Linked DNA regions of Homo sapiens. The protein of the gene in region 1 interacts with the protein of each later gene in a pairwise test. Each region holds a gene or a part of one and is shown on either strand. Other genes may lie near its edges.

Region 1 (7,428 bases):
ACCCAGGAGGCGGAGGTTGCAGTGAGCTGAGATCACGCCACTGCACTCCAGCCTGGGTGACACAGCAAGACTCCTTTCAAAAAAAAAAAAAAAAGTCAAAAACCTTGAAGCATGAAAACCTTCATGTCTTTCGTGAAGAATCTGGTCTAAAGATATTTTTTATTGGAATGTGGTGTTGGAAAGGAAGAAAAGTCAGTGAAGGAAATTGTAAGGTAACAGTTCTGACTGAAAACCTAAATCCTTCGTCATCACTACAGGGATACAAACCCCAACACTACTCTGCTGCTGAATGGACTCAGTGGCACGATCATGTTTCACTGCAACCTCCGCCTCCTGGCTTCAAGCGATTCTCCTGTCTCAGCCTCCCAAATAGCTGGGACTACAGGCACATGCCACCATGCCTGGCTAGTTTTTGTAGATCTATATTTTTGTAGAGACAGGGTTTTGCCATGCTGGCCAGGCTGGTCTCGAACTCCTGACCTCAAGTGATCCACCCGCCTTGGACTCCCAAAGTGCTGGGATTACAGGCATGAGCCACCATGCCTGGCCATGGACTCAGTCATTTTAATGAGCAGATTTTACTTCTCAAGTTTAATGACCAAGAGATGAAAACTGCTGAGAAATATATAAAATATTGAAACTAACGTGGTCATTAAACTTGAGAAGGGCAGCACGGTAGACTGGAAAAGGGCAAAACAAATGATCCTGAGGCACCCACACATATACAGGAAGTCCCCAAATGGGCCGTGATACATTTTCAGTCCTCTGGGAATCTGAAAAGAGCAAAAACTGGGGACCTACAGAGAAATGCTGTGGAGAGAGTAGGAAGGACTTCAGGGAGCTGCCATTCTGTCAGATCAAATTAAAAGCATGTTCAAAGACAGAATCCTCTTGAGCCCCTTGCTCTCCTCCCTACCATCTACTCTAGAAAGCTGGTGGCCAACAGAGCAGGCAGCTGTGGTGCCTGCTCCAGGCACCAAGACAACTGAAGATGCTGCTGTGAACACAGAAGAGGTAACAGCCATGCTGCTTGATTCAGGCTCCCCACTGCTTGCCAGGGTTACATCCTAGAAGATCCTAGAAGATCTGGACCACAAAAAAGCCACCCGCCCACATCTGGCTCTGCATAGGGGTACATCTCATTGTCATTGCAGCCTTCCTGGTCAAAGCTGTCTTCTAGGGAAGTGGGGGACAGGGATTATCACCAGCTGGATAATGAGGAAGAAGGGGCAAGCTCTGTTGCTTCAGAGTTGCACGTTTCCTCCTAATACCCACTAGTGTTTTGACAAACTGTGCCTTATGGGACACCAGGTCAACACTGCATGACTGCCACCCAACCAGAAATGCTGTCGTGGTGAAAAGGGGAAGCCCCAGCACTCTCAGTGGGGTAGATAACAATAGACTATGACAAGGAGACGCATTTGCAAAATTTTCCTTTGAAAACGTAATGTAATAATTTATAACTACACTAGTGATTTTTTTTCCTATTCTCCTGGTTTGCAAATGGCTGGACAAATCCACAGGAAAGAAATTATTTTAATTATCACCTGATGATTTTATTTCCTGCTTTGAACCACTTAGTCCCTTCCAGGTCTCCTTGCACTCAATAGTGTTAGAATGCTCTACTTGTGTTCACTTCAGAAAATGTCCCCTAAACTCTTTTTTTTTAAGAGATGGGATCTCACTTTGTCACCCAGGCTCCAGTGAGGTGGCACAGTCATAGCTCACTATGGCCTCGAACTCCTGGGCTCAAGTGATCCTCCTGCCTCAGCCTCCCAAGTAGCTGGGACTACAGGTGGGTGCCACCACCCCTAGCTCATTGAAAAAGTTTAGAAGTTTGAACTTGTACAGATAGCTGAGTTTCTTGGGTGTGACCTATTTAAACCAGGTCATTTTTAAATGCTCTTTCAAAGTCTGATTTTATTAATAAATGAAATCATCCCATCATAAGGGAAACAATGAGAAATCTATGAAGGGAAAACATATCCATTAATATGAGGCACCCTGAAAATTAAACTGTTTGGTGGAAGGAACAACCATCACTTTCAATTTCTTTTTAAAGCAACTTCCAGAGAATAAGCTATGTTAAGTAAAATCAAAACAGGAAAAGCCACATCTAGGTGGATTTCAAACGAAATGATACCTCTCTGAAAAAAAAGCAAAAACAAAACCTTAATGCCTGGTGAAGTTTGAGGGGGGTCTCATAATCACAGAGCCATCAGGAAGCGGCTAGAAACAATGAAGCAGGGTTTCAAAATGACTGGTACAGGATGTACCCATAGAAAGAAATGTTGCGCGCACTGGTGGAGCTGCCAAAGTTACTACTGCAAAGTACCCTGAACTTTTAAAGCGTGGCTTGGGGTCACTCTGACCACACTCTTTCCAATCTGGTCGCCTTGCAAACACGCTAGGATAATTGGCGGGAGGGGGGAGGGGAGAGATGCGCGGACCAGTGAGCTGGCGGGGGTTGGGGGAGAAGCCGGCGGAGCTCTCGGGTCGCTAGCAACATTAAGGTTTCGCTTTCGTCCAAGGGCGGCGGGGGTGGGGGGGTAAGGGGGGCAACGAGATGGCAATGAACTTCCTCCCCCGAGAGACCCTGGCCTCGCGTCCGTGGGCGGCCAGATGCCTTCCCCTCCGCGGCCAGGCGGGGCAGGGGCGTGCTGCGGGAGGGGGCGGCCGCGACGCCCCGAGAGGAGCCAGCAGGGTGGCCAGGACGAAGCCCCAGGAAGCGCCTTACCTGTGCCGCGGCGCGCTCAGAGCCCGGGGCCGGGCCGGGACGCGCAGGTGCTTGGGGGCATCCTGGGGACGGCCTGGGCGGGCGGGGAGTCCATCGCACCCGGCTGGCTGCGCTCTTCCCGCCGCGGGGGGACGGGGAGGGGGCTCCCCTCGGCTCGGCGCCCGCCTCTTCTCCACCCAGCTGAGGACACAGCAGGTCCCGCGGCGGCGGCAGCAACAGGCACCGGCGGACGGTGGCGGCACCAGGAGCAGCAGCCGAAGAGGAGGAGGAGGAGGAGGAGGAAGAAGAGGAGGAGAAGGAGGAGGTGTCTGCGCGCGGCTCTGGTTTCCTCCTCCCAGCCTGGGCGAGCGCGCTGGAGGCGAGGGGAAGACAGGAGCCGGGATCTCCCCACTCGGTCCCCGGGGAGCTGGGAGGGGGACTCGGTGTCCTCCTCCTCCCCACTGCGCCGTGTGACTGTGCCTGGGCAGCACGGCCCGGACGGGCGAGTCACACGCGAGCAACAGCTGCTGCACTGCGGGTCCGCCGCGGCCTCCCTCCCCTCCTTGCCACCCCCCGCCCCCAAGCCCGCGGGCCATCCTCAGCCAGTGTCTGTGGGGGGAATAGGGGGGAAGTACTCGGGCCGCCGCCCCATCCAGACCCCTGCGCAGGATCTGGGCACAGCGTTTCCCTGGGGAGCCGGGGGCGCGGGGCCCCGCGCGTGATGCAGGCCCTCGTGGCGGGATGTACAGTCGCACACCCTGTCCTTGGCGGCCTATTTATAGCAGGTGGCACTGCCCGCCGCTTGCTCGGCCTGAGTGGCTCTCAGCAGGTGGCACTGCCTGCCCGCTCTCCGCGCTCCCGAAGGCGCCTCGCCTCATCTGCACCCTCCTCTTCTCCCTCCGAAACAGACGTGGTGGAAACTGCACACAACATGGGGGGCGGGGGCCGGGGGCGACCAAGCCACCTTGCTCTCCCCCGCCTTACCCCTTCTCCCCGTCCTTGGAGGATGGCAAGAGGTGAACTGAGGCACGGATGCCCTATGGGGCGCTGGCATGCGAGGCAGGAAAATCAGGGACTCTGGGAAACAACGAAGGCGAAGTGCCCTCCCGGGATTAAACACCAGGAAACTCCATTTCTAACCAATTGCGGGAGTGACGCAGAGCCTGGATTAGGCGCTTTTTCCTGCCCCGCGAGCCCGGCACACGCGCAGGAACACACACCACACGCACACGCACACCCCAGTGTGCATGCCCCGATCAGGTCTGGGGACATTCCCAGCGGTGATGTAGAGTGCAAGGAAAGACGCGGAGATGTGAAAAGCGGGACAGAGCTCGCTCCCTAAGACTAGGGGATGGCAGTGTGCAAAAAACAGGCGAAGCTCCCAGATCCCTATCCCACCAGGCACAGAGGCGCAACGTCACTCGCAGGGTGGGGAGAGGGATCTGAGAAAAGTAAGAAGCATCACATCCTCTCCAGAGAAGAGTCCGCAGGGAGGGGAGAGCCGGGTGCTCGGAGGAGGCAGTTCCAGACCCCCAGGTGGCATCTTTCTGGATTTTTTTACTTAATGTAGCTGGGGGTGGACTTTAGGGAAGTGGCTGAGCGTTTGAGCTGTACGGTTGGACTTGAATCCAAATCCCAGCAGGTGTGGTTTAGGCAAGGTGCTGGACCTCTGGTCTTCATTGTCTTACCTGCTAAATGGGACCAATACACACCTTACAGGATCTTTGTGAGGACAAAGCAGGAAAGTGTAAGTAAAGTGGCCAGTGCAGTGACACAGACGTACATGGTCCTCAACTAAAAGCAGCAGCTATTATCAATATTACTGTGGCCCAGGAGGCAAATAGAGGGCCAGGTTTCCTCATCGTACCAAGAGCAGTGTCTTCCTTGAAGCCCACTGAGCTTCTTGTAGGCTTTTAGATTAGGGCTGTCTTATGGCATTCCCTGATTTCCCTGGATGCTTACATCCAGGGGAGGTATTTTTAAGTGGACCCAAGAGTTTTATTCACAGCTTGACTTAAAACTCTCACAATAGTGGTAGCTATTCTTTACGGAGGAGTTAGTCGATTTGGGGTATTGTGCTAGATACTGTCCTTATATATTGTTGCTAATTTGCTCAAAAACTCTGCAGGGCAAAGATTGTTAAATCCATTTGACTAAGGAGAAAAGTAAGAGGTTAGTGCCTACAGGGTTAGTGGGTGCTGGAATCTCCAAGATCCAAAGCCCTTTATAATATACTTGCTCTCTGGCCACTGTGTAGCCCTCAGCTCATTCTTTGTCATTGAGTAGTTATTTGTGTGCATAGCCTCAACTCTTTTTTAAGAAATATACAGTCATAAATACTGTAATGAGTAGAATGTTAACTGGGTTATGGAAATTATTCTTTAGGTTACAAGACCAGGTAAACCAGTTAAACCATATTGTTATCACTTGGGTCATATCCCAAATTATTTCATGTTTTTACCTTCAACTCTGTTGTAGAACTCTCTCTCCCTGTCTGCAGTGACCTGCTGCACACATTTACCTCCAGAGTGCTAGGAGGTCGAGAAAGGTACACTAGCATTCATTTCATTGACACTGTAAACTGCTTTTTGTATGTAACCCACCAGAGGATGGTTGAAACTGTTACCTAACAACCCTGCTTGCCAGGCCCTGCTCCTGGGAAAAGGGGTCAGGCCAAGGGGAACAGAGATAATTTGCTGGGCTCTGCTTACAGAACATCCTGGCTAGAGCCCCCTCCCATCCTGCCACTCCACTACCTTTTCTTTCCCTCACTTGCTCACCTCCTCTACCCTCTCTTCACCCTTACCCCTAGTCCCAGAGTACAGGAAGGCTTAAGTACAGGTAGGCAGCCAGGCGGGGTGCCTAACCAGAATACAGATGTAGGAAGTCGATGGGTGGGGCCCAGATGCAGGCCCAGGCCTCATATCTCTCAAAGCATTGACATCCAGCAAGTTCCAGCTCAGAGATTTATAATTTAGTGGCAAATGACCATTTGCCTTGACCCTTACCTAGGTTAGGGAGAGGTCATGGCCTTGTGAGAAGCAGCAATTTCTGCATCACTTTTCCAGCTCCCAGGACAGCTAGCACCCTAAGAATGATGAGGAGGGATTTTACCATACTTTCAACTTCTGGGAAACAGAACTCCCTCTATAGTATGCAATAAGGATTGTTGAAATTCTTTTTAAAATCTATACAGCATTATCTTAGAAATTAGGGGACAGCTTGCTATCAATCTATTTGGCCTTAGGTTTTCTAGCAGTTGTAGAACAAATAGTAAAGGGGACTTTGAAGCAGATGGTGATACCTGGTATGGCAGGATGAAGACTGTCAAATGTGGTTGGGGAGATCCATACTGGCCCAGTGCAGAGTGCAGAAGTAAGAGCTCACCACTCAGCTCTTACCTGCAGGTGCCATTGCTCTAGGAGGGAAGTAGCTCCTTCCCCTTGATATGTGGCCACGTGACTCCCAGGAGAGCTGGTACACACCATGGTAGAAGCGTGGGCCAATGGGGCCTTGGTGATGGCAACAGAGAGCTCCCTCAAGGCCCAGGAAGGTGTTCTGTTGGTCCCTCTTTAAGTCACCGATAACAAAAGCAAGCAGAGAATAGGGCCAAATGCTCCAATGATTCTGCTTCAGCTTCTGATTCTTCTGACGGAGTATGACCCAGGAACACAAGGAGTGTGGAGCTCTTCACCACCATGGGCATTTAGCTGACATCAGCTATGGACCCATTGGCTCAGCGAGTGAAAACCCTGATGCGAAGGCACCGACCATCATGGCTGCTGCACTTTTCCTGTCTGGACAACTTCCGCACCTCCAGCTCTTCCCAAAATCCTGCCATGGATCATTCTTTTAGGGCTTCTCCCATAGACTCTTTCCTAATTTAGCTATTTGCAGCATAATTAGTTATTCATTGCCAAAAGCCAGGAACATTAATATCAGCTTTAAGATGGCTGCAGAGCTCTAGAAAATTGTGAACCATCGATGCTATTAAATCACATGAAAAGCTCAGAGCCTGAAAGAAAACAGAGGCCACTTTACTTTTAAAAAGTTAAGGGAACCATGGGAACCATATATACATCTAGAATTAAAATCTTTCGTTGATGTAGAAAGAAGACCTTTAACAAAATTAATCATCATTAAATCCATCAGTTAGGTATTTAAATGCTCATATTAGTTAGGAATCCAAACTATTGCTATTATATATTTTTACTTAAATTCAAAATGTGCATAATAAGGTAGTGGGTCCATTTCCAAAAAATGGCATCAATAAAGGCAAAAAATAAGACTATACTGGCTAGAACCCTAGGATAGTAAGGTGGTTCACTGGGTATGCTTGTTCCCATTGATTGATAGTGACTTTCTGGAGCCCTGAGTGGACGAGGCTTGTAAGGCAAGTCCATGCTCAGTGGGAAAGGGTGCAAGATTGAGAAGCAGCACCTGCCTCAAGCATGGGAGGAGGCAGCATTGCAACACCAGCGCCAGGTAATTTGCCAACCCTGTCAATCCAAGGCATAACAGTTAGATCTAAAGAGTTTGTGAAGGCTGGGGTGGTGGCTTATCCTATAATCCCAGCACTTTGGGAGGTTGAGGTGGGCTGATCACTTGAGCCCAGGAGTTGGAGATGAGCCTAGGCAACATGACAAAACCTCTATAAAAAAATACAAAAAAAAAAAACTTAGCTGGGCGTGGTGTTGCACACCTGTAGTTCA
Region 2 (3,004 bases), on another chromosome or scaffold:
TTACTACAACAATAATTTCCATTAAGAAAAAGAAAAGTAGGAGCACTCAAAACATAAAAACCCTATACTTACAAAATATGACTATGGTGTGAGTTGAGAACAAATAAAAATTACGTTCCTTGGATCAAGTAAGGGACAACAGAATGTCCCATACTCTCATCCAGGCATGGTGGCTCATACCTGCAATCCCAGCACTTTGGGAAGCTGAAACAGGAGGATAGCTTGAGACTAGGAGTTCAAGGCTACAGTGAACTATGATTGGGCCACTGCACTCCAGCCTGGGTGACAAAGCCAGACTCTGTCTTAATAAATAAAAACAAAACAAAAAGATAAATAAATAAAAACTCTCATTACTTAAGATTTTACGACAATCAGTACAACTCAAAACCAATGATTTGGCTATAAATTTTAACTTTCATGCAAACCCCAAACAACCCTAAAATATGTTATTTGGAAGAATTACTTTTAGAACCACCAAAATTCAAAGATACTATTTAAAAATCCAGAAATAAAAACAAATTTGAATCATACAAATTTTCAGTATCATTTAATTCTTTAATACTTTGGGGACATTTCCTTTTCCTTTAACAAAAAGAATAGAAGTGATACTATATACTGCTAGTAGAAAATTAAGAGCTTTTCTATAAAATCCTATGAAATTAAAATTAAATCGTCTTATTTTTAAAAATGCAAAAGAAGCCAGACAGTAGACTTAACAACCATGAAGCAGACCCACTTCCCTCTGAACCAAGGATTTCCTATGCTTTTTAGATATCCCTTCAGAAAAGGCCTTCTCTAAATTAACTGAACAATTCGGAATACCAAGAAGTAGGTAGAGAGCAGGAATGTGAGCAGATCATCGAATATATGTTTTTACTCCATGGTGACTAAAATGAAGTCCATAGATAGGAGCAGGTGAAGAAGAAAACAACACAATCTCCTGATGTACAGTTGTCACTGACCCAGAGCAGTCTGCTGCTGTGACTCTCTCTGCCTGTGACCTGAGGGTCAGTTGCTTCATTAGATGCAATGGAAATAAAACTGAACGGGATCTGAAGAAAAATTTTAAAATGGAAGGTACACCTCAATAGTTTTTACTTTTGGTGAAGTCATATGGTTTCCACCACTGAGCAAACTGCAGTGCTTTTTTCCTCTGATCCTCAAAGCTTTCTCGGATGCCTTTCCTCCAAAGTCTTGGTTCTATATCCAGCATCCCACCTATGATTTCCTTTTAAAGAAAGAGAAAAGCACAAACACAAGCATGTATAAATAATGAAAACAGAAATGAAACTATTTCTGTTTATTCTGCTATAAAATATAACAAGTTCTTCTCCATGACAATGTTCAAGCATAAATACTAGTTGAAGTTAAAAAAATATGTTTTCAGTTAATTCTAACTAGGCAAACCGTGTGATTCTAAGAGTCCAAGTTAGCTGCATCTCCTATCAAGCAATTTGTCCATTTTGTTGCTTATTAGCACATCTACTAGATGGTAACAAAGGGGAGGGAAAACAAGTGAAATTTAATTAATATGATCTCTATTAGAGGCTCCCGTAAACAATTTTGCAAAAATGTTAATCAACTTCTAGCAATTATTAACTTTACTGCTCAACTGCAGTTGAATCCCAAGCTAATGTTCTCTCTCTGCTACCAAGTATATTTATAAATTAGTTTCTTCCACTATTAGCAGAAATCTTTTTTCATGAAACAAAATCCTATTGTAATACTAGTTTAAGTAAACCTATTGATAGAATTAAAAATTATATATCACTTTCATTTAAAAAATCACATTCTCAAGTCCCATAATAAATGGCTTTTTGGTTATCTGATTATTATTCTTGATTTCCTTCATGATCCTCTTCCTGTGCTGTTAGCTATAGAAATAAATCAAATTTAGGCATGTGAGTATCCATGAACAGAAAGACATGGGGGAGCCTCCTAATGCTTAAATGCTTAGAGGGAGGGCAGTATGGTAACAAAGCAAAAAACAAAAAACAAAACAACAACAACAAAAAACAGACTAAGGATCAAATTCTGCATAGTCGGTCTAGCTCCACCAGACTGTGTGGTGAGATCCTGCACAAACCACATAATCTTTCAGATGCAGGTTCTTCATCTTACTTAGGGACCTACTATGCAGAAGCAAATGCCGTATGTTGTAGGGGATACAGAGATTGTGGGGTGAAGACACACAGTTGTCTTCAGACAGAATAGAATCTGGAGCTGTGGTGGGAGGAATAATAATCCAGCTATGCAGCAGACTGTCTCATAAAGTAGAAGGTAAGTGTCAAAGCAGACCATTTGTGGAGACTCAAAAAAAAAAAAAAAAAAACAATCTATTTGTTGGCCAGACCAGGAGATGCTTCATGGAAAAGGGAATCTCCTGTCATCAGGGAAGGGAAATAAAGGGGTCAACAGAGATAGTAGAAAAGAGAAATAGGGCAAATTGAGATTTAGTTCAAGAGTTTCTCAGCATCGGTCCAAATAAGCAATGTAGTTTAAGAAAGCCTAGCTTATAAAAGTTTACCTAAAATTGTCTATAAAATACCAAGTTTTGTCTTACATCTACCATATAAGCTTGACTCTTGTTCTGTTATCAAAGCAGCTGTTAATGGAAAGACTATCCCCATAATCTCTTCTTGCTCTCTGAACAACTGCTTCAGCAGCAGACTGCAGGGAGGTCTTGAGCCCACAGGCTATTTCTTAAAAAGCAAATTTTGAGGAAAATGGCTCAGTGACGCAATGCTGACAGAGAAAATTTACTTTTAACTCCAAAACTGAATCATATAAACCAGAATGCATGAATAATATGTGAAGAAAGGGCAATCTCCCAGTTTAATATATACAACTTTTTAAAAATGGATATTTTACTTCCTTTTTTCTAGGACCAAATTTTTGTTTTGTTTTGTTTTTCTGTTTTTGTTTTTAATAAATCCAGCCATAGAGCTTTTGGTTATAAAGCTCTACTGTATAACAACAGGATTTTTCAGAACAGTGAAAACAC
Region 3 (7,238 bases), on another chromosome or scaffold:
TTGTGTGATCAGTATTATTTCATTTCTCAATGAAATAACCCCCACGTGGGTAATACACATTATCCTTTTTAGTGTTTCCCCAAATTCTCCTTACATATCACCACAATTTATTTTACGTTTACCTACTAAAAGATTTTTAGATCCTTCCCAAGGTTTTGCAAATATAAATGGCAATGTGAGGAACATTCTTGTATATACATCTTTCCATAAGATTATAGGTTATGGTAATTTATAATTTTTAAATGTTGGTATAATAAGATCTTCAGAAAAATTTGATGTGTACACTCACATCACAATGTTGTATATCCATCACCACTTTCTCCTTCCAGAACTTTCTCATTATCCCAAACAGAAACGCTATACCGTTTAAGCACTAACTCCCCATCCCTTTTTATTCCAGTCCCTGGTAACTCTGTTTTACTTTCTGTCTTTATAAATTTGCCTATCCTAGGTACGTCATATAAATGGAATCATACAGTATTTGTCCTTTTGTGTCTGCCTTCTTTCTTTTTTTCTTTTCTTTTCTTTTAAGAAACAGAGTCTCATTCTACTACCCAGGCTGGAGTGCAGTCGTGCAATCATAGGTCACTGCAGCCTCGAACTCCTGGGTCAAGTGATCTTCCTGCCTCGGCCTCCTGAGTAGCTGGGGCCACAGGCACATGCCACTACCTCCAGCTTGGCTTATTTCACTTAGTGTATTTTCAAGTTTTAATCACGTTGTAGCGTGTACCAGAACGTCATTCTTTGATATGGCTGAATAATATTCCACTGTATCCATTCATCAGCTAATGGACACTTGGATTGTCTCCACCTTTGGATATTGTGAATAATGCTGCTATGAACATTGGTGTAAACACCTTTCTATGAACCTGTTTGAGGATATTGTTTTAATTAAAAGCAAGCTGCTACCACTACATACCTATTAGAATGGCCAAAATTCAAGACACTGACAACAAATGCTGGTGAGAAATTGGAGCAACAGGAATTCTTATTCATTGTTGGTGGGTGCAAAATGATGCAGCCACTTTGGAAGACAGTGTTGGCAGTCTCTTACAAAACTAATGATATGGACAGGAGGCAGGAGGGCGGGATTCCTGGTGAGGGTTCTTACCCTCAAGCTTGGACCCATGGCCCTAAATGAGAACAGGCATTCCTGTTTTCACGCCTGTACGTTGCCTTTTCCAAGACCATTGTGGCCCACCCTGCTCTCTATCCTGTGCCCATAAGAACCCCAAATCCCAGGCTCCACAAACAGAAGAGCAGCAGAGGGGCAGAGGGGCAGAGCTGCAGAGCAAGGTGGTGGAGAAGGAGAAAAGAGAAGAAGCAATTGAGCATTGAAGAGGTAGCTGGATGGTCAGAGAGGAATTTGGCCAGGGACAGCAGAACTCCAGGGGACGATTATCTTCCCACGCCATCCCCTTTCCAGCTCCCCATCCTGCTGAGAGCCACCTCCCTCACTCAATAAAACCTCTGCATTTACCATTCTTCAAGTCCATGTGACCTGATCCTTTCTGGATGCTGGACAAGGACCTGGGTATTAAGAGGGCAGGGTGTAAAAGGCTGTCACCCTCACTCTCCACTGAGCTGGTTAACGCTTAGCTGTCCATGGATGGCAACTGCTAGAAGAGCATTAATTGTAACACACCCCTAGATGCTACCATGGGGCCAGAGCCCAAAGGTGCTCACCCTGGCCCTGGCACCCACTTGCCTCTGTGCTCCCCCTCCCATAAGGGGTTTTAGCACAGTGGCTGAGTAAGCTAGCCACGACAAGTCCCGCGAAGGGGTCCAGGGAACTCTCCTGTCTCATTAACATACTGTTACCACACAATCCAGCAACCATGCTAATTTTTTTTTTTTTTTTTGGAGACGGGGTCTCGCTCTGTCGCCCAGGCTGGAGTTCATTGGTGCAATCTCGGCTCACTGCAAGCTCCGCCTCCCAGGTTCACGCCATTCTCCTGGCTCAGCCTCCCAAGTAGCCGAGGCTACAGGTGCCCGCCACCACGCCCGGCTAATTTTTATTTTTGTATTTTTATTAGAGACAGGGTTTCGCTGTGTTAGCCAGGATGGTCTCGATCTCCTGACCTCGTGATCCGCCCGCCTCGGCCTCCCAAAGTGCTGGGATTACAGGCGTGAGCCACTGCACCCGGCCGCAACCATACGATTTACCCAAATGAACTGGAAACTTATATCCTCACAAAACCTGAACACAGATGTTTAGAGCAGCTTTATTCATAGTTGCCAAAACTTAGAAGCAACCAATGTATCTTCAGTAGGTGAATGGATTTAAAACACTGGTACATGCAGACAGTAGAATATTATGCAGCACTAAAACGAACTGAGGCTGGGCACAGTGGCTCATCCCTATAATCCCCGCACTTTGGGAGGCCAAGGCAGGAGGATTTCTTGATCCCAGGAGTTTGAGACGAGCCTGGGCAACATGGCAAAATGCCATCTCTACAAAAAATACAAAAAATTACCCAGGCATGGCTGTGTATGCCTGTAGTTTTAGCTACTTGGGAGGCTGAACTGGGAGGGTCACTTGAGCCCAGGAAGTGGAGGCTGCAGTGAGCCATGATCGCACCACTGCACTCCAACCTGGGTGACAGAGTGAGACCCTGTGTCAAAAAAAAAAAAAAAAAAAAAAAGCCAGGGTAACTTGAGGGAAACATGAGGGAAACTTAAATGTATATTACTAAATGAAAGAAGCCAATCTGAAAAAGCAACATATGTATGATTCCACCTATATGACAACCTGCAAAAGGCAAAACTATGGAGACAGTAAAAATATCAGAGATTTCCAGGGGTTGTGGGATGGATGAATAAATGGAGCACAGATGATTTTTTGGGGGGCAGTGAAACTATTCTGTACGATACTGTAATGGTTACAGGCATTTGTCAAGACCCATAGAATGTACAACATCAAGTGAACACTAATGTAAGCTATGGACTTTGGGTGCCAATGATTTTGTTTTTTAATTTATACTTTTTGAGACAGGGTCACCCAAGCTGGAGTGCAGTGGCACAATCTTGGCTCACTGAAACCTCAGCCTCCCAGGCTCAAGTGATCCTCCCACCTCAGCCTCCCGAGTAGCTGGGACTACAGGTGCGTGCCACCATGCCCGGCTAATTTTTGTATTTTTTTTTTTTTTTTAAGAGATGAGGTTTCACCATTTTGGCCAGGCTGGTTTCAAATTCCTCGGCTCAAGCAATCTGCTTGCCTCAGGCTCCCAAAGTGCTAGGATTACAGGTGTGAGCCACTGAGCCTGGCCAGGTGCTGATATTTAACTGTAGGTTCACCAATTGTAACAAATACACTGTTCTGGTGTGGGATATCAACTTTGGGGAGGTTGTGTGTGCTGGGGGGACATGGGTTATATGGGAATTCAATGTATTTTCTGCTCAAATTTTGCTGTGAACCTAAAACTGTTCTAAAGGATGAAAGGAACTGAGGGTGAAGGGAAATGGGAAGATGGTGGTCAAGGGGTACAAAGTCTCAGTTATGCAAGATGAGTAGTTCTGGGGAGATGCACAGCTATGTGACGATAGTTGACAATATTGTGTACTTGAAATTTGCTAAGAAGATAGATCTTAAGTGTTCTCATCAGACAAATAACTATGTGAGGTGATGCACATGTTAATTAGCTTGATTATGGTGAATATTTCACAAATGTAGATATCAAGTTGTACATCTTAAATATATAGATCTCAACAAATATATATACCTCAACAAAGTGGCCTGGGAAAAAAGGGAAAAAAGCTAGTTGCAGCACATGATACCTTTATGGCCAGTTTTGTAACAACAACAAAAAAATCAAAGTGCGAACTTAATGTTATACGCAGTTAATCTTTAGAAAGTGAGATTATGGATACTTTATTTTGTACATATATTCTAATTAAATACAGTTATAGATTATTTGTGTAATGTTTAAAAGCCAAGTTGTTGTATTTAAGGGGGAGGTGGTGAATTGTAGTTCACGACCCACTCTGGGAAAAAAGAAAACAGTGCAGGCTAAGGAGATTATTTTGGTCGGCTCATCAGACCGCCTAACAAGGCGAAGACTTTCCTGAGAGTCCCTAAAGCCGCGGCCCCGGAGGCTTGTGGGAAATGTAGTCCCGAACGTGGATGGTCCACCCCTCCGAGGACCCTGGGAACGGCCCGCGCCCCTGTTTCTGCGCATGTGCAGTGCTGCGAGCGCGCCGGTGGCCGCCCTTCCCCCACCACCAGCGGCGAGTGGGTGACAGAGCCCCCGTCTCCGCGCGTCTTCGCCGCCCTGCGCCGTGACCCGCTGTGGCACTGGGCCACGAGTGGAGGCTGCGCCCCTCCAGGTACGAGAGGGGCTTCCAGGTAGCTCCGCGCGGCCTGGGGCCGAGGGGAAGGAGATGAGGGATGGGCTCGTGCCCGCGCAGGGTGGGAGCCCAAACTTCGGCTACTCGTAGGCGGCAGTGACCCTCAGGGCGGCGTCCGGGGTTGCCCGGCGCTCGCCTCTGAACGGGGCCGGCGGGGCACGCCTGGCCGAACGTGCGGGGGCGGGGACGGCGGAGGGAAGGGCGGCTATGAGGCTTCGCCTTCTTCTCTTTGTCAGGAGATGCGCCTCAGACGGGCGGCGAAGGGCTCGGGCCGCGCGGGAGCGAGTTCTGGAGCCCCGGCGGGCGCGCGCGCGCGGGACGAGGCCCCGCCGGGGCGTGGTGGGGGCGTGGCCTGACACACCTGGCCACGCCCCGATGCCCGGTGCCTCGTGGGTGGAGGAAGGACTGGAGCCTGGTCAGTTGCCGGTGGTGAAGGAGAACCGTGATCCCTTTGTCAGAGGGTCTTCAGTGAGGTGTTCCCCTGATCCTCGCATCCACCCCGTGACTTCCAGCGTTATCATCTCCGTCGCTATCCCAGGAACACGGGAGGTTCAGAAGGGGAAAGTGATTTCCCTAAGGTCTCACAACCCGGTGGTACTTTATGTGAGCAGCAGATATTTTTTCATTTATCTTTTGATTTTACTCGCTGGTAGATTTTGCCATGTATACGTTTTGACGTTTTAAATTTCTCTCGGGTGGAATTTACTGTTCTTTCCGTTTGGGGCACCCAAAATTCTTCACTACTTTGAAATACGAAAGTTTTCCCATGATTCTGGTGCAGTCACGCTCTGCGTAACAGTGTTTCTGTCAACGAGGGACCTCATGTAAAATGGTGGTCCTATGTGATTGTAATACTATATTTTTGTATTGTACCGTTTCTTTTCTTTACTTTCTTTTTTTTTTTTTTTTTTTTGAGACGGAGTCTCGCTCTGTCGTCCAGGCTGGAGTGCAGTGGCTTGATCTCGGCTCACTGCAACCTCCGCCTCCTGGGTTAAAGTAGTGCTCTGCCTCAGCCTCCCGAGTAGCTGGGATTACAGGCGTGAGCCACCGCGTCCGGCCAGACACAATTTATTGATGTAACTGTTCCTCTAAATACTACTTTAACTACATCACTCAAATTTTTATATCTTGTATTTTCTTTTCTGTTGTTGTTGTTTTTGAGACTGAGTCTCACTCTGTCACCCAGGCTGGAGTGCAGTGGCACTCAGCTCACTGAAACCTCTGCCTCCCGGGTTCAAGCAGTCCTCCTGGCTGGGATTACAGGCACCCGCCACTACACCTGGCTGATTTTTGTATTTTTAGTAGAGACGGGGTTTCACCATGTTGGCCCGGCTGCTCTAGAACTCTTGACCTCAAGTGATTCTCCCGCCTTGGCTTCCCAAAGTGCTGGGATTACAGGCATGAACCACTGCACCCAGCCTTTTTATTGTGTTTTCATTACCATTCAATTCAAATTTTTTTAACTTCCCTTGTGACTTCATTTTTTACCCTTATTTATTTAGATTGTATTGCATAATTTCCAAGTTTTTGGAGATTTTCCAGATCTTTTTTTTTTTTTTTTTGAGACAGAGTCTCGCTCTGTTGCCCAGTCTGGAGTGCAGTAGCGAGATCTCGGCTCACTGCAAGCTCCGCCTACCAGGTTCACACCATTCTCCTGCCTCAGCCTCCAGAGTAGCTGGGACTACAGGCGCCCGCCACTACACCTGGCTAATTTTTTTATTTTTTTTTGTATTTTTAGTAGAGACGGGGTTTCACCGTGTTAGCCAGGATGGTCTCTATCTCCTGACCTGGTGATCCACCTGCCTCGGCCTTGCAAAGTGCTGGGATCACAGGCGTGAGCCATCGCACCCGGCCCAGATCTTTTTATATTATTGATTTATAGTTTAATTCTGATTTGGTCAGAATACTGTGTTACGAATTTCAATTATTTTAAATTTGTTGTGGTTTGTTTTTGTATTGTATTTTTGTTTCATTTTGTTTTAGTAGACTCCTGGTCTCAAGTGATCCGCTGACCTTGGCCTCCCAAAGTGCTTTACAGGCGTGAGCCACTGCACCAGGCCTGTTGTAGTTTGTTTTAAGGTCGAGGATATGATGATCTCTCTGGGTAACTGTTTCGTGTGTATTTGAATAAATATTGTGCTGTTGATCGTAGAATCTTCCTTGATTGATTGATTGATTGAGACAGGGTCTGTCTCTGTTGCCCAAGCTGGAGTGCAGTGGTTCAGTCACAGCTGTCTGCAACCTCAAACCTTTTGCCTCAGCCTCCCGAGTAGCTAGGACTGCAGGTGTGCGCCCTAATCCTTTTGCCTCAGCCTCCGGAGTAGCTAGGACTCAAGGTGTGAGCCACCACACTCAGCTAATTTTCTGTATTTTTTGTAGAGACGAGGTTTTGCCATGTTGCCCAGGCTGGTCTCAAACCCCTGGGCTCAAGCAGTCCACCCACCTTTGCCTCCCAAAGTGCTGGGTTTACAGGCATGAGCTACTGTGCCTGACCCTCTTTTTCCATTCTTTTATCTTTTTTTTTTTTAATTTCCTGACTCCTACAACTGATCATCCTTTTACTTTGAATGTAGCTATGTTTTTATATTTTAAACAAACTGCTTATAGACAGCACATGGTTTGGTCTTACTTTTTTTATATAATTTGACCTCTGTTATTTAATTGGTGTGTTTATGCCAATTATTGATATAGTTGTGTTAAAGTCTACCATCTTGCTGGTTTTTTTCTGTTTTTCTTATTTGGTCTTTGTTTCTGTTTACCTTTTTTTCTGTCTACTTTTGTCTTAAGTGGGTCTTTTTTATAATTACATTTTATCTCCACTGTTGTCTTATTGTATATTTGTAAAAATTTAACAGAGTTTTTGGTTGTTACCCTAAAGTTTAGTGGAACTT
Region 4 (6,753 bases), on another chromosome or scaffold:
AGATTTCCTTGGCTCTGTGACGATGTGCTAAGGCTTGGAGCTTCCCCACCAGGACCCTCAAAGGAAGAGGTTTCTCTTTCAAGTTTTGGTGGTTTACTCCAGACATTCTATTTGCTGTTCTGTGTAGGGGTCACTTGTTATTATAACTTCTTTTACCAAATTTCCAAGATTGTTGTCTTCAAGATCACCTAGACTGGAGATCTGCTATCACTGCCACTTGGGTTAGAAACCCTCCTTCTCCATATCAAAGCATCCCCATGACATGAACCCTCAAACTCTGACCTGTTCCTCCAATCCATTCCTTCCTGTCCCCTGGCTATTGCCCTGGTTTGCGTTTCCTTATTGCCCACCCAGACTGCTGAACCAGCCTACTAATTGATCATCCACGCTGCTGCCAGGGTGAGCTTTCTAAAATCTAGATCCCATTGGGTTTCTTTCCTGGTTTCAAGAGTTTTATTGACTTCTCCCTGTGATCTATACAGTGGATTTCAACCCTCATAAAAAAGGATTGAAACAGAAGAACCCCAAATTTTTTCAGTGAAGTGTTATCAGGAGCTCCAAGATATAAAACAGATAAAGTCTAAGCTGCCCTGGGTAAAGCAAGGACAGAGGCCTCAGAGCCTGCCCTAAAGTCCTCCAGCCCTGCCCCTCTGGGCCCAACACAGCTCTGAGGAATCCCGGAACTCTTCCGGACACAGCTGGGATGCTGCAGCCCAGCGGGAGGATGTCTATGCTTCCTGGCTTGGCATAGCAGGCCCTCCAGAATCTGCCCCAGCCTACCTTTCTGGCCTCATCACCTGCCACTTCACTGCACACACTCTCCATGCCCCTGCTACACAAATCACACAACCCCAATGTGCCAGGCATTCGAGGCTCCACACTGCAGTCCATGCAGCTTCCTCGGCCTGGTGTCTTCCTGCTCATCCCTGTCTGGACAATCCTAACTGTCCTTCCAGGTTTCACTCCAGTGTCATCCTGTATGGAGCCCTCTCTTATAAACAATTCAGACAGAGCACACCCCCACCTTCCCCTGGGAAATCTGTTAAGGTGAACTGTTTAACCACTTAAAACATCTGCTACCCAGACCTGTTTCTCATAGCAATATCATCTTTCTAATCCTGGCCCAGATTATCAATAAATGTGTGTGACATTATGAAGTGAAGACTGTGTCCTTTATTCCATCGTCAGCAGAGGTGAGTGAGCCATACACAATTCCCTGAGGAATCCTGAGAACCTTCAGAGGAAGCAAGAGGCCAAAGAGCCCCGAACTGGAAATCTGAGCCCTTGGGTTCTCATTCTGACTCCATCCCAAACTAAGTCTTTAAATTCAGCTCTACGCTGCCATGGTTTTAGTGCTCTTGGCATAATGATAATGATGATTCTAATGGCTAATATTTATAAGGCAGCTACCACATGCAGACAGACACTGCTCTAAGCATTTTTCATGGATTAACTCATTTTTGCTTTACAGAACAAAGGCTGAAGCATTTACTAGATTGAACCCTTTCTCCAGCTGCATTTGGGACTGAAAGAGACTTTACAGGGATGAGGAAAGGTGAAATGACTGCTCAGGTGACTCAGCTGCTAGCAGAACTGGCTGGTGGCAGGTCTCCTGGCTTTCAGGTGAGTATACTTTCACCCACATAACACTGCTCTATGGGAGTAGCCTGGGTATTGACCTGTCCCTGCAAAATGTTTTACAAAGCATCAACAGAGAGATATGACACTCAGCTATCAGCACAACTCAATACATGAAAAAAATTTCCTAACTTCAAAAGTTAAATGATTCCATTCAAATTTGGTTTACTTTTTAAATTACCATCTAGTAAGGACTATATTCACATAAAATAATTTATTTAACAAGGATACAAATGGTGCCAATAAAATCTAGGGTAGAAAAACTTCTTATCCCCAGCTATAGACATGCTGGTGAGATCCTAACCAGGCAGAGTGGCTCCTTCCACTGTAGTTAAGGCTGCTACCACGTGGCTTCAAGGACATGGTGTCCATGACCCTCTGCTGTACATCAGATCATAATTCTCTTAAAAGCATGGCTCAATTTAAAGTGTATTCCCCGAGAGGCAGGCAGCACGCTATCATGGAAAGAGAAGTAAATCTGAAGTCAAAACTCCTGCCATTGACCAAGTGACCCTGGGGAAATCAGTTAATATGGCCAAGTCCCAGATTTGTCCAGTGGAAAATATTATCAAGGCTATTGGTCCTTCCTAGCTGGGGTTGCTGTGATGCTTCAAGGAGACGTGAATGAAGAGGACTGGTGTGGGTAAATACTCATTTTTCTTCTTTAAGGAATGGTCATACTTGGAGAATGCTATCCAGAACTGTTTCCTCATTGCAACCCTGCCTTAGTCTCTTCCAGATGCTATTAACAAAATACCACAGATTGGGTGGCATATAAATGAATGAAATTTATTTCTCACCATTTTGAAGGCTAAGAAGTCCAAGATCAAGACATCAGATTTGGTGTCTGGTGAGGATCCTCTCCCTGGTTCAGAGATGGCCATCTTTTCACTGTGTCCTCGCGTGACAGAAGGGATGAGGGATTACTCTGGGGCTCCTTTTATAAGGGCACTAATCCCATTGATGAGGGCTCCACCCATATGACCTAATCACCTCCTAATACTATCACCTTGAGGGTTAGAATTTTAACATATGAATTTGGGGGAAACACAAACCTTCAGACCACAGCAACCCCAGAGAAGAGAAATGACTTAGCCAAGATCCACAGTATGATGTGGACACGACAGAGCTTGGAGTCTCCCCTTTCTAGCACTCTATCCTTTACTTAAACTATTTTAGGATTACATTAATTTCATTCTTTTCTTAAGCTAGGAATCTGCAGAAATATTTGTAAATTCATATATTACTTTAAGTCTTAACACTTTGTTTTTGAGACAAAGTCTCACTCTTGCCCAGGCTGGGGTGCAGTGACACAATCATGGCTCACTGCAGCCTCAAATTCCTGGGCTCAAGCAATCCTTCTACCTCAGCTTCCAGAGTAGCTGGCACTACAAATGCACCCACCATGTCCAGCTAATTTTTAAAATTTTTATATAGAAGCAGGATCTCTCTATGTTGCCCAGACTGGTCTAAGTCCTGGGCTCAAGGAATCCTCCTGCCTTGCCTTCCCAACATGCTAGGATTACAGGCATGAGCCACCACCCAGCCCAACCCTTAAAACTTTTAACTGACGCTTAGCATGGCACCAAAATAATATTTATTGAATGTATTCTGGTGCCAACCTCTGGATGCATAATTTCATCTGACCCTCACAACAGTCCTGCAATGCCCATATGATGAGGCCCCACTTCCCATTCCACCTTGCTGGAACTGGAGGTCAGGGAAACTTAGGGAATTTGCCCAAGAGCCCATGAGTGAAGAGTGGTAGAGGAGATTCAAATTCTTTTTCTCTACCAGATCCAGTGCTTTTCCCATTAGCCAAGGGTGCCTCAACAAGGAACGAGAATCCCACAAAATTGGAGGAAAAGGGAAAAAAAAATGTGATTTCAACATGGTGTTCACTAATGCTATTGCAGAAATGTGCACGCAGCATTCACATTTTGACAAAAGCAGTAATTACCATATTAGGAAATAGAGTCGTCTTCTACCTTTTCTAAAAATCTTAAAAAGTAAACATTAAAGCATACTTTGGGCTTGCTAACTTAAAAGGCAAATGGGTGGTGTCGCGTCCACAGCCGTTCTATTTGACCACATTGCAGAGGTACACACGTGCAGGACGGTGATTCTGCAGCTAAGGGTACCTCCTCCCTGAGACTGCACCCCGGCCCTTCTCCCCACCCCTTCCATTCTGAGGGTGACGCCTTCACCTGGGCTCTCTTAAAATCCTGCTGTTTGTGTGCAAATGCGAGTTCAAATTTCTCCCTGAAACACTGGTGGGGGACACTATGCACCCTCAGCTTTAAATGTCACCCTGATTTCCTACATATTCCCTCCTCCAACATACAACCCCTCTCTCCCCCACCCGACCCCCACCACCCCCATCCCCAGCCTCCTGTCCTTCCCATTCCAGGTGCTCCGGGTGCTAGCAAAGCTGGGGTGGGCGGCGCCGGGCAAGGTCTGAAGACTGCGAGGACCCAGCTGCCAGGCGCATTGTGAAGTGGCCCGAGCGTCACAGGCGACCCGGACCTCGGGACCGGGGGGCAGGGCGGGTGTCTGCAGCGTCCTCGGGAGGTCTCAGGCCCCTTGGGCAGACGCTGCGCGTGCCCAGAGGGAGGGATGGCAGGCTTCAGCCACTTCTCCCAGCCGCCCTACCGGGATCTCTGGGAACCCCCGCGGCCCGGCGGAGAACGAGAGTCCACGCAGCGGCTGGGCGGGCAGAGGTCCGGAGCCGACTCCACCGCGTGCTCCCGGGCCGGGACTCCGGGTGCGGAGAGCGAAGCTGGGGCGTGCTGGCTGCACCCGCACTGTTCGTTCACCCCGCGGCCTCGCAGGCGCGGGTGCTCAGATTCACTGCGGGGCAGCCGAAGCCTGAGCGATGTGGCCCGCAGGCCCCTGGAACGTTCCAGGAAGCACCGGCCCCGCAGCAGGCGCCTGGAAGATGCCTGGGGAGAGACAGGAACCAAGCCCCGCCCGGCTTGGCAGCCGCAGACCCAGCTGCCACCCCAGCGGCCGCAGCCCTGCCCGCATTACCCTCTGGCCCAGGGAGACTCGCCCCCGCCTTGCCCCGGAGGAGCTGGCACTCCCCTGAGTGGCACATTCAGGGTAGAAAAGGCACAGGGTGGAGACCAGTGGGCAGTGCCACTCGGCAGACATCTAGGTCGCTGGTCCCCTTCCTCAGTTCCCTCGGAGCGGTCTTCTGTGCCCTCGCAAAAGTTCAAGAGGCACTCAGCCTGCGTGTGCGCCCAGAAGAGAGACAGCAGCGACCAGGTTGAGTCATTAGCCAGCCGGGACTCCCAGCCCTTGGCCTCCAGCAAAGAGATGCGGAGCCCGCACACCCAGGTCCTGAAGAGCAAGCTGGAAGAGGTGGTGGTGTCCTCCCAGGACCAGCAGATTGTGGCCCTGGTGCTGACCCGTCTCAAGAAGGCCCAGAGGATACGGGAGCTGCAGCAGCAGGCGGCTAAGGCCTGGGAGGAGCTGAAGCGCTCGGATCAGAAGGTCCAGATGACCCTGGAGCGGGAGCGCCGGCTGCTGCTGCGGCAGAGCCAGGAGCAGTGGCAGGAGAAGGAGCAGCGCAAGACCCTCCAGAGCCCTGAGCAGCGCGGCCTGCGGCGGGACAGCCAGAGGAAGAACGTGCCCCCGGGGGAAAGCCGGTGGAAGGAGCAACCAGAGGACCAGGAGAGCCCGCGCCAGGAGAAGCTGGAGAAGGCGCGCGCCCAGGCAGAGCACCGAAAACAGTGCCAGGTGCGGCGCCTGCGGGAGCAGGAGAAGATGCTACGGAACCTCCGGGAGCAGCACAGCCTGCAGCTGCAGAGGAGGCTGGTGGAAGCCTGTCGCAAGAGGCACCTACATGCCGTGGAGGGCCAGAAGAAGGTCCAGGACACCAACCTGAGCTCCCTCATCAATTACCAGGCCCGGAAGGTCCTCATGGACTGCCAGGCCAAGGCTGAGGAGCTCCTTAGGCAGCTGTCCCTGGAACAAAGTTTCCAGCGGTCCCAGGAGATACACCAGGGCCTGAGGAAGGAGCGGCAACGCGAGCTGAGGGAGAAGGCCCAGAAGGAGGAAGAGCAGTTGCAGCAGGCCAGGTGGCGCGCAGGGGAGTCAGAGGAACAGAGGAAGATGCGCAAAAGAATTCTGGTGGAGCTGGCGGATGAGAAGATCCGACAGGCCAGGAGTCACGTGCACAAGACCACTAGGGACAAGGTGCAGCACCTCCGGGAGCTCAACCACCTGAGGGAGAAAAACCACCACATCCTGAAACTGAAAGCCGAGAAGGAGGAAAAGTGTCACATTGAGGGCATCAAGGAGGCCATTAAGAAAAAGGAGCAGAGGGTGCAGCACATTTCCCAAGGGAAAGACCCAAACTTCCAGGAGTTCCAGAAGCTCCCTCAGGCCTCCAGGAGAGAGGAGAGAGCGCCTCCCAACAGCTCCCTTGATCAGATGGTACTAGAGGCCCAGCTCCGTGCCTGTCAGCAGAACAGGGGTTACTGAGAACCAAGGACGCCTGGCTTACAGTGCGCAGCCAGAAGGAGATGTGGCAATGTGATTCCTTTTGTAATCTGATTATAATTGAACATTGATTTTAAAAAAGCATGTAAAATAGCTGCAATTTCCTCTCATGAACTGGTTTATTGATTCACTTGGATAGTTTAGAGGGTCGGAGAGAAAATTTTGGGAATTTTTGTTTTTTTAAATTATACTTTAAGTTTTAGGGTACATGTGCACATTGTACAGGTTAGTTACATATGTATACATGTGCCATGCTGGTGCGCTGCACCCACTAACTCGTCATCTAGCATTAGGTATATCTCCCAATGCTATCCCTCCCCCCTCCCCCCTCCCCACCACAGTCCCCAGAGTGTGATATTCCCCTTCCTGTGTCCATGTGATCTCATTGTTCAATTCCCACCTATGAGTGAGAATATGCGGTGTTTGGTTTGTTGTTCTTGCGATAGTTTACTGAGAATGATGGTTTCCAATTTCATCCATGTCCCTACAAAGGACGTGAACTCATCATTTTTTATGGCTGCATAGTATTCCATGGTGTATATGTGCCACATTTTCTTAATCCAGTCTATCATTGTTGGACATTTGGGTTGGTTCCAAGTCTTTGCTATT

What was found.
Region 2: the proteins of TBC1D1 (region 1) and CWF19L2 interact in binary tests that used the Homo sapiens proteins (3 or more experiments, as listed by UniProt).
Region 3: the proteins of TBC1D1 (region 1) and ZFP1 interact in binary tests that used the Homo sapiens proteins (3 or more experiments, as listed by UniProt).
Region 4: the proteins of TBC1D1 (region 1) and CCDC185 interact in binary tests that used the Homo sapiens proteins (3 or more experiments, as listed by UniProt).

The regions. Positions count from the first base shown.
Region 1 is NC_000004.12:37,886,658-37,894,085, reverse strand, and holds the start of TBC1D1 (TBC1 domain family member 1), read right to left. Parts: upstream 3,003-7,428; 5' UTR 2,738-3,002; intron 1-2,737. UniProt on the Homo sapiens protein: May act as a GTPase-activating protein for Rab family protein(s). May play a role in the cell cycle and differentiation of various tissues.
Region 2 is NC_000011.10:107,325,826-107,328,829, forward strand, and holds the end of CWF19L2 (CWF19-like protein 2), read right to left. Parts: intron 1,229-3,004; coding exon 1,085-1,228; 3' UTR 535-1,084; downstream 1-534.
Region 3 is NC_000016.10:75,144,318-75,151,555, forward strand, and holds the start of ZFP1 (zinc finger protein 1 homolog), read left to right. Parts: upstream 1-4,206; 5' UTR 4,207-4,326; exon of another isoform or gene 4,327-4,345; intron 4,346-4,583; exon of another isoform or gene 4,584-4,722; coding exon of another isoform or gene 4,723-4,950; intron 4,951-7,238. UniProt on the Homo sapiens protein: May be involved in transcriptional regulation.
Region 4 is NC_000001.11:223,389,222-223,395,974, forward strand, and holds CCDC185 (coiled-coil domain-containing protein 185), read left to right. Parts: upstream 1-4,193; 5' UTR 4,194-4,254; coding exon 4,255-6,126; 3' UTR 6,127-6,244; downstream 6,245-6,753.